Homo sapiens: one gene and its partner. The protein of the gene in region 1 interacts with the protein of each later gene in a pairwise test. Each region holds a gene or a part of one and is shown on either strand. Other genes may lie near its edges.

Region 1 (2,619 bases):
TTTGGGAGGCCAAGGCAGGAGGATCACCGGAACTGAGGTGTTTGAGACCTGCTTGAGCAACATAGTAGGACCCTGTCTCTACCAAAAAAAAAAAAAAAAATTAAATTAGCTGGGCATGGTGGCTACTGTAGTTTCAGCTACTCAGGAGGCTGAGGCAGGAGGATCACTTGAGCCTGGGAGGTCAAGGCTACAGTGAGCCTGGGTAACAGAGTGAGACTGTCTCAAAAAAAAAAAAAAGGAGAAAAAGAAAGATGTAAGTGTGTAAGTGAAGCCTGGAGATGCAGACACCTGCGAATGGGCTGCTGAGGGGCACTTGGCTATGGCTGGGGCTCAGGAAAAGTGGAGCTCAGGGAAGAGAGGCTAGAACAGGGCTCAAAGGGCCTTGAAGGCCAGGCCTGTCAGGGTCCATCACCTCCTCAGGCTGGAGAAGTCAGTGCAAGCTGCAGTGATGGGGTCCTGAGGCCCCAGTACTTCTGCCCATCCTCTCCCACTGTCTCCCAAGATCATACAGGGAAGCCTGTTTCCAGATGCCTGTGATTTATTTCCAAAGGAGAGCTACAGCACATAGGAAAATACACATGGCTTTTCAGTCTACATTTTTACAGAGAAAAGAGATTCGGTCATTGGCTTTCTCAGTGCCATCATCCTGTTCCATGAGGCTCCAGGATGGATGGCCTGTCTCCAAGATCCCGCTTTCAAAGCAGCAGCTTGGCCAAGGCCTCTGGGGGTAGGAGTGAAGGGCAGCGACCCCCATGTGCGGGTGGAGGGGAGGACATGAGCAGCACTCACTGCAAAGCTAAGGCAAAGAATAGAGCTGGTGGGAGATGCCTCCCCTCACCCCAGGGGCATGGCTTGCTGAGGCCCAGGATACAGACCAGGAGGGGTGGGGATGGGGGTCTGGTCCAGCCTGGAGCGGCAGCAGGACTCTGAGTGTACACATGGGTGTGGGGTGAAGAGGGGGGCATGCTGAAGAGGAAGCCTACCAGGGTATAGAGGGGCTTTAGCTTGCATATTCCCCCTGCCCCAGAACAGCTCCCAGACCATGGTCCCCAATCCTACACTTGGCCCCTCTCTTAAGTTCTACTTCAGGTGGGGGTCCTGCTCAGGTTCCTTCTGCCACCTTATCCCCTCCCACTGTCAGTGCAAAACATTCTTAGGGCCAAGCCCCTGAGTCCCCTGCACACTGACTGGAGCTGCAGGGAAGGGAGGACAGCAAGGTGCTAGCTGGGAGCCTCCCCCAGCACCAGGAATTCCTTGCACATCTCTCGGACAATCATGCGGTCCATCTGGCACTGGGGTGAGGTCTCCTCCTCATTCAGGATGCGTCGCAGTATGGCCTGCAGGTCGGGTAGCCGGTGGCGGTGCTGCAGGTAGGGTGTGGTGCGGACTATAGCATGCATCAGGGAGAGGTACTCCATGCGCAGCTGTGGGAAGAGCAGGCCAGCTCAGGGACCCCAGGGAGGTACTGCAACCACCACTGGACAGGGACAGGACCCCACTGTCCCACAGACCCCAGGGCTGTGGACCTGAACATCAGGGCTGCATCCCCAGCACCCACAATATACCTGGCACAGAATTGGTCTTCAATAGTTTTTGAGTAAGCGAATAAACGAATCATCCCAGCCACAGACAGCCCCAAGTATGTGGCCTGCCCAGGGAAGTCCTGCCCATCCTTTGAAGCTGGGTCTCTCAAGGTGCCTCTGTCTATCAGTCAGAGGCCCTCTGCTTCTCACCCTATCCTCTCTTACCCTGGAAGACCTCGTGCACATTCACAGCTTCAAATAGTGAACCACTCTCATACCTCTTACCTAGAACTCCCCTGTGAGCTCCAGACAAGAATATTCAACTGCCCACTTGACATCTCCTGCACATGTGACAGACCTCAAATCCACATATCTACCACCAAACTCATGATCTTTCCCATCCTCCCAGAGTTGAAGGTTTTCTCATGTTCTTACCTTTAGAAAGAGCACTGTTGCCGATTCAAAAGCACAGGCCTGAAATATGGTGTCCTCTTTGCTTCTTGTCTCCCACATACCTCATATCCAAGCCATGTCTAAGACCTGGCCATCCTACCTCCTACATATGCCCCAAATTCATCTCCAACAGCCTCTCCTCCAACCTATACTCCCAACACCTCTGGCTGAACCAGTTCCAACAGCCCTTATGATCTATATATATATATCATATATATATATATATATGATATATATATATATATATCATTTTTTTTTTTGAGACAGGGTCTCGTGCTGTCACCCAGGCTGGAGTGCAGTGGCATGATCTTGGCTCACTGCAACCTCTGACTCCTGGATTCAAGTGATTCTCCTGCCTCAGCCTCCCAAATAGCTGGGATTACAGGCATGTGCCAAAATGCCTGGCTAATTTTTGTATTTTTTTTAAGAAGAGACGGGGTTTCGCCATGTTGGCCAGGCTGGTTTCAAACTCCAGACTTCAAGTGATCCACCCACCTCGGCCTCCCAAAGTGCTGGGATTACAGGCGTGAACCACCACGCCCGGCCAGCCCTTATGACTTGACAGCTTGTTCTCACAGAGACCCCCAGTCCACTGACCTGATGTCTGCTTCCCTCAACATCCCTCATTTCTCTTTTTACCTTT
Region 2 (7,047 bases), on another chromosome or scaffold:
GGCAGGAGATTGGCGTGAACCAGGGAGGCGGAGATTGCAGTGAGCCGAGATCGCGCCACTGCACTCTAGCCTGGGCAACAGAGCAAGACTCCGTCTCAAAAACAAAACAAAACAAAACAAAAACAAAAATTAGCTGGGCGTGGTGGCGGGTGCCTGTAATCCCAGCTACTTGGGAGGCTGAAGCAGGAGAATTACTTGAACCCAGGAGGTGGAGGTTGCAGTGAGCCGAGATCGCACCACTGCCCTCCAGCCTGGCGACAAAGCAAGAATTCGTCTCAAAAAAAAAAAAAAAAAGTGCTGCATAAGCCTAGTAATCCTGGAGACATTCAGTCCAGGAGAGGGAGTCCACAGGGAGGTGGCCAAAGGGCACCCCTGCTACAGGGCTCTTGCCAATTGGCTGGGTTTGGGAGGAAGACCCAATGCTACAAAATCTTTGATTTTTCCAGAAAAGCTGAAAATTGGGATCTTTGAAGTGAAATTCTCTGATTTTTCAGTACAGATAGCTAATTCAAAATGTTGTGAACCACCATGGCAATCTGCAGGCCACGCCAGCACAGCAGCTGGTATTTTGATACCTTGTGCCTGTCAGTGGGATTGCGGTACTACCTGACCTGCCTCCTCTGCCACTGTCACTTTGGAGCAAAGGCAAGACCCTCAGTCATGAAGGGATTCAAGTTCTCAACCCACAGGAGCAGATGTGGGAAAAGAACCCAGATCTGAACAAGTGGAGACATGCACTTGGGAGGCAGACTTACATAATACATGGTCACTTTCACTAGAAAAGCCCTCCCCCAGTGAGGTCCACAGCATCCCTAGACTCTGCAATGCCTGGCACAGGGAAGTGCTCAATACACAGCTGTTGGGGAATGGAACGAACGACTATTTACAACATATTACAATTCTAATCAAAATGTTGAAAGGGTTTTTTTCAGTACAAAATGTTTCTGCAGTGTATTTCAAAAAACAAATTTGCAATTATAACAAACGTACCATATTAACATAAGCTGTTAGCTGGGCGCGGTGGCTCATGCCTGTAATCCCAGCACTTTGCGAGGCCGAGGCGGGCAGATCACCTGAGGTCAGGAGTTCGAGACCAGCCTGGCCAACATGGTGAAATCCCGTCTCTACTAAAAAAATACTACTAAAAAATTAGGCCAGGCATGGTGGCTCACGCCTGTCGAGGCCGAGGCGGGCGGATCACCTGAGGTCAGGAGTTGGAGACCAGCCTGGCCAACATGGTGAAATCCCGTCTCTACTAAAAAAATACTACTAAAAAATTAGGCCAGGCATGGTGGCTCACGCCTGTCGAGGCCGAGGCGGGCGGATCACCTGAGGTCAGGAGTTCAAGACCAGCCTGGCCAACATGGTGAAACCCTGTCTCTACTAAAATATAAAAATTAGCCGGGCACGATGGCGGATGCCTGTAATCTCAGCTACTTGGGAGGCTGAGATGGGAGAATCACTTGAACCCGGGAGATGGTGAGTGCAGTGAGTGAGCCGAGATCATGCCACTGCACTCCAGCCTAGGTGGCTAAGCAAGATTCCATCTCAAAAAAAAAAAAAAAATTAGTCCGGTGTGATGGTGGGCACCTGTAATCCCAGCTACTTGGGAAGCTAAGGCTGGAGAATCACTTGAACCTGTGTGTATACACATGTGTATATATTTGGGAGGCCTCAGCCTCCCAAAGTGCTGGGATTACAGGCATGAGCCTCTGTGCCCAGCTTATGCAGCATTTTTCCTTCTAGAGGATTTCAGAGAAAAGTGAAATCTTGGTTACACCCAGCCTGAGTCATTCACTCATATGTGTATTTTGCATATATACACGCATGTGTATATTTTACATACACATGTATGTGTGTATATATTTACATGTATGTGTAGATATATACACATGTATGTGTATATATGCTGTTAACAACACGGGAGATTACATACAGAAGCCAAAGGACCTATGCATTATTTTCCAATTTTTTTTTCTTTTCTTTTTTTTTTTTTTTTTGAGACAGAGTTTCACTCTTGTTGCCCAGGCTGGAGTGCAATGGCACAATCTCGGCTCACGGCAACCTCCGCCTCCTGGGTTCAAGTGATTCTCCTGCCTCAACCTCCTGAGTAGCTGGGATTACAGGTTCGTGCCACCATGCCCAGCTAATTTTGTATTTTTAGTAGAGACAGGGTTTCTCCATGTTGGTCAGGCTGGTCTCGAACTCCCGACCTCAGGTGATCTGCCCACCTCGGCCTCCCAGTGTGCTGGGATTACAGGCGTGAGCCACCGCACCCAGCCATTATTTTCCAATTTTTATGTAAATCTATAACTGTTCTTTAAAAAGGGCTGTTTTGAGAATAGATTTTCTTTCTTTTTTTTGAGACAGAGTTTTGTTTGCTCTGTCGCCCAGGGTGGAGTGCAGTGGTGTAATCTCGGCTCTTTGCAACCTCTGCCTCCTGGGTTCAAGTGATTCTCCTGTCTCAGCCTCCCAAGTAGCTGGAATTACAGGCATGTGCCACCACATCCAGTTAATTTTTCTATTTTTAGTACAGACAGGATTTTGCCATGTTGGTCAGGCTAGACTCAAACTCCTGACCTCAGGTGATCTGCCCGCCTTGGCTTCCCAAAGTGCTGGGATTACAGGCATGAGCCACCGCACCCGGCCGAGAACAGATTTTTCAAAAAAAGACCAATAAGGAATTGCTCAAACAGATTTTTTTTTTTTTTTTGAGACGGTCTCTTGCTCTGTCACTCGGGAGGTGGAAGTTGCAGTGAGCCAAGATCGTGCCACTGCACTCCAACCTGGGTGACAGAGCGAGACTCCGTCTCAAAAAATAAATAAATAAATAAGATGTGATGCAGATGGAATCAAGATTCAAACAGATTAAAGAGGAGTTAGTAAGTGAAAAATGTGGAGGATAAATGCTAATAGGACTCTGTGGTGGAGACGGTTGCCTACCTATGGCTGAGTGGATAATGGCCCCCAACACATCCACATCCTAGCCCCTAGAAGCTGGGAATATGCCACCTTACATGGCAAAAGAGGCTCTGCAGATGTGATTAAGGACCTTAAGATTCGGACATGATCCTGGATTATCCAGGTGGGCCTGGTGTCATCACAGAGGTCTTTATAGGTGAAAGAGGGAGGCAGGAGAGTGAGAGAAAGAGATGTTATGACAGAATCAGAGGGAGGGAAATGCGACTGCTGGCTGTGTAGATGGACGAAGCCATGAGCCAAGGACGGTGGGCAGCCTTTGGAAACCAGAAAAGACCAGGAACAGGTTCTCCCCTAGATCCTCCAGAAGGAGCCAGCCCTGCCAACACCTTGATTTTAGTCCAGTGAGACCCATCTGGACTTCTTATCTCCAGCTACTAAGTCTGTGGTCATTTGTTATGGCAGAAACAGAAACAAATATACTATCCAATCTGTACTCTCTGCTAGCTCTTTAATTAAAAACAAATCACGTCATTTGTTATGGCAGAAACAGAAAACAAATATACTATCCAATCTGTACTCTCTGCTAGCTCTTTAATTAAAAACAATCAGCACCTTGGAAGGCCAAGGCAGGAGGACCACTTGAGTCCAGGAGTTCAAGACTCACCTGGGCCACTTAGTGAGACTCGTCTCTACTAAAAAAAATTAGCCAGGCACAGCGACACATGCCTATAGTCCCAGCTACTTGGGAGGCTGAGGCAGAAGGAGCACTTGGAGCCTGGGGGGTTGAGACTGCAGTGAGTCATGTTAGCACCACTGCACTCCAGCCTGGAAGACAGAGCAAGACCCTGACTCAAAAAAAAAAGAGAGAGAGAGAGAGAGAGAAAATGAAACCAGAAATATAGAACCTTAGAGTCTAGCCCATTCCCTTGGTTCTCAGTCCTTGGATGGGGACAAGACAATCCCATCAAGGCAGAAGAGAAGGCAGTAGATAATACAGATAGTTGGTTTTATTTGTATGCCTTTAACACCTTCCCACCACAAGGTGGGGAAAGTCTTCTAAGAGGGCCACTCACATATGATGTTGTGCCTGGCGGTGCGGACTTGGTACAGGTCCACGTCTGACCGGGGGTAGCCCTCACAGTCCACCAGCGGCTCGTTCATCCCAATGCCTTTTTGCTGGAGGAAAGAAACGTGGTTAAAAGGTGCTCATGGGTGTAATGTCCCCAGGATGTCTTTCCCCAGACCCTTCTCCTCTGAAGTCATAATAAAGGTGACAGTAATGAAAACTGCCACATACTGATCACTTACACCAGGGGCTCTACTCATGCCCTCACAACTACCCTGGGGTGGGCACTGTGTTTTTCATTTTTTATTTTTAACGACGCAAGTAATGCATGAATCCATTCTTTTTTGAAGTTAAAACAGTGCCGATAAAACCAAAGACTCCTTTGAGCATCATCCCCAAGGCCAGCCTCTTCCTCCACTCCTTCACACCCTCCTTCCCACAGGTGGCTGACACCTGGCTGCTGGCCCTGGAAGCTAGAGGGGAGTGAAAAGCCCAGACAGCACCCAGCTGTGGCAGGGCTTTGATTCTTCTGAAAATAAAAAGATCTGAAGAAGGAAACTGATAGCACCAGCTGCCTCCGGGGAGAAGAACTGGGTGGCTAGGTGACAGGGCAGGGAGAGAGACAGTCCATTTTATACCCCTCTGTAGGTTTTGAATTTTGCCTATGGGAATGTATTCTTTATTCAAAACAACACTTTTTTTTTTTTTAACATGAGTCAGAGGAGAGTACACAAAAGCAGTGAAACCAGTCACATGGTTCAGGGGAGGGGCTTTGCAATTGGTTAGACTTTAATTTGAATCTCAACTCTGCCATGTACAAGCTGGGCATCCTTAGCTGAGACCTTCTCCTCTCTAAGCCTCAGCTTCCTCAATTATAAAATGGGAATAGGAGCACTCGCCTCCCTCCCTACCTGCTGCAAGAACTAACGAGCTGACCTGCAGAGTACTTAGCACATGCCACGCGCATACACAGCATAGTGGGTTGAAGAGCGGCCCCCAAAAACAGATAACCACGAGCTAACCCCCAGAACCTGTAAATATGACTTTATTTGAAAAAGAGTCTTTGTAGATGTAATTATGTTAAGGATCTCGAGATAAGCTCATCTGGTGGCTGGTGTCCTCATAAAAGAAAGGCAGAGGTAGGTGTGGGACAGACACAGGAGGAAGGCCACATGAAGATGCAGGCAGAGGTTCAAGTGACACAGCTGTAGGCCAAGGACCGCCAGCAGTCACCAGAGGCCAGGAGAAAGGCTTGGGAGCTTCTCTCTCAGAGCCTGCAGAAGGAGCCAACCCTGCTGACACCTTGATTTCAGACTTCTGGCCTCCAGAGCTGGGACAAAGTAAATTCCTGTTTTAAGTCACCAACTCTGTGGTGTTAAGGTGGCCTCAGAAAACGACTACGCGCAGAAGTCATAAATAGTGGCTGTAAGGATTAGTCAGTCCAGGGACAAGCTGCCAGTGTACACAGGCACTGAGAAGAGGGATTCCATTCATTTTGCTCCCTTTCTCTCTGGAAGCCTCCGGGTTACACCCAAACCTACTGTCCACTGCGCAGGGAGATAGTTCTCCACACTCCCCTAACACAGGACTCGCCGTGACACTGCAGAAATGCGCCAGGGGCTAAAAACCTGTATCTGCTCCTGCCTTCCCACAGTGGTTAAGGGTTGACCAGCCTTTGAGAATCAATATCACATTGGATAATGCTTCTCAAAGGATGGGATCCATAACACTAGCAGCTCACACACACGGCATTAAATAACCCTGAATCAAAAATACATATTCCTCTCCCAATTCTCTACAATCCTGCAATTGTCAAGGCAAAAGTGTCCATTTGGTGCTGGTCTCTGCAACACCCCAGTTACTTGCTATCTCTAGTACCCTCTGTTTTTATAACAGTTTTATTGAGATATAATTCAGATACCATATAACTGACCCATGTAAAGTGTAAAAGGTAATGGCTTTTGTGTTTGTATTGGTTTGAGACAAGATCTTCTGTTGCCCAGGATCGGGTGCAGTGGTGTGTTCATAGCTCACTGCCGCCTTAAACTCCTGGGTTCAAGCGATCTGTCTCAGCCTCCTAAGTAGCTGGGACCACAGGCACATGTCATCACACCTGGCTAATTTTTAATTTTTAATTTTTTTTTTTTAAAGACAGAGTCTCGCTCTGTTGCCCAGGCTAGAGTACAGTGGCGAGATCTTGGCTCACTGCAAGCTCCGCCTCCTGGGTTCAGGCCCTTCTCCTGCCTCAGCCTCCCGAGTAGCTGGGACTACAGGCGTCTGCCACCACACCCGGCTAATTTTTTTGTATTTTTAGTAGAGACGGGGTTTCACCGTGTTAACCAGGATGGTCTCGATCTCCTGACCTCGTGATCTGCCAGCCTCGGCCTCCCAAAGTGCTGGGATTACAGGCATGAGCCACCATGCCCGGCCTTTAATTTTGAATTTTTTGTAAAGATAGGCTCTTACTGTGTTGCCCAGGCTAGTCTCAAACCCCTGGCCTCAAGTGATCCTCCTGCCTCAGACTCCCAAAGTCCTGGGATTACAGGCATGAGCCACCACGCCTGGCCATTGACCATTTGTATTGACCATATTTTCTTTGGAGAAATGTTTATTCAGATCCTTTCCCTGTCTTCTAATTGGCTGTCTTTTTATTATTGAGTTGTAAGAGCTCTTATTATAGTCTAGATACTATCCTCTTATCAGAGAAATGATATGCAAATATTTTCTCCCATTCTGGAGCTTATCTTTTCATTTTACTATGCCCTTTGAAACACAGTTTTAAAGTTGAAGTCCAACTTATCATTTTTTCTTTTGTAGCTTGTGTTTTTGGTGCCATATCTAAAAAGGCTTTGCCTAATCCAAGGTCATGAAGATTTACTCCTATGCTTTATTATACGAGATTTATAGTTTTAGCTGTCCACTTCTTTTTTTTTTTTTTTTTTTTTTTGAGATGGAATCTCTGTCACCCAGGCTGGAGTGTCGTGGTGCAGTCTTGGTTCACTGCAACCTCCGCCTCCCAGGTTCAAGTGATTCTCTTGCATCAGCCTCCCGGGTAGCTG

What was found. The genes of interacting proteins can lie anywhere in the genome.
Region 2: the proteins of NCKIPSD (region 1) and PSMD9 interact in binary tests that used the Homo sapiens proteins (3 or more experiments, as listed by UniProt).

What each region holds. Positions count from the first base shown.
Region 1 is NC_000003.12:48,673,324-48,675,942, forward strand, and holds the end of NCKIPSD (NCK-interacting protein with SH3 domain), read right to left. Parts: intron 1,425-2,619; coding exon 1,221-1,424; 3' UTR 521-1,220; downstream 1-520. UniProt on the Homo sapiens protein: Has an important role in stress fiber formation induced by active diaphanous protein homolog 1 (DRF1). Induces microspike formation, in vivo. In vitro, stimulates N-WASP-induced ARP2/3 complex activation in the absence of CDC42.
Region 2 is NC_000012.12:121,891,790-121,898,836, reverse strand, and holds part of PSMD9 (26S proteasome non-ATPase regulatory subunit 9), read right to left. Parts: intron 4,099-7,047; coding exon 3,996-4,098; intron 1-3,995. UniProt on the Homo sapiens protein: Acts as a chaperone during the assembly of the 26S proteasome, specifically of the base subcomplex of the PA700/19S regulatory complex (RC).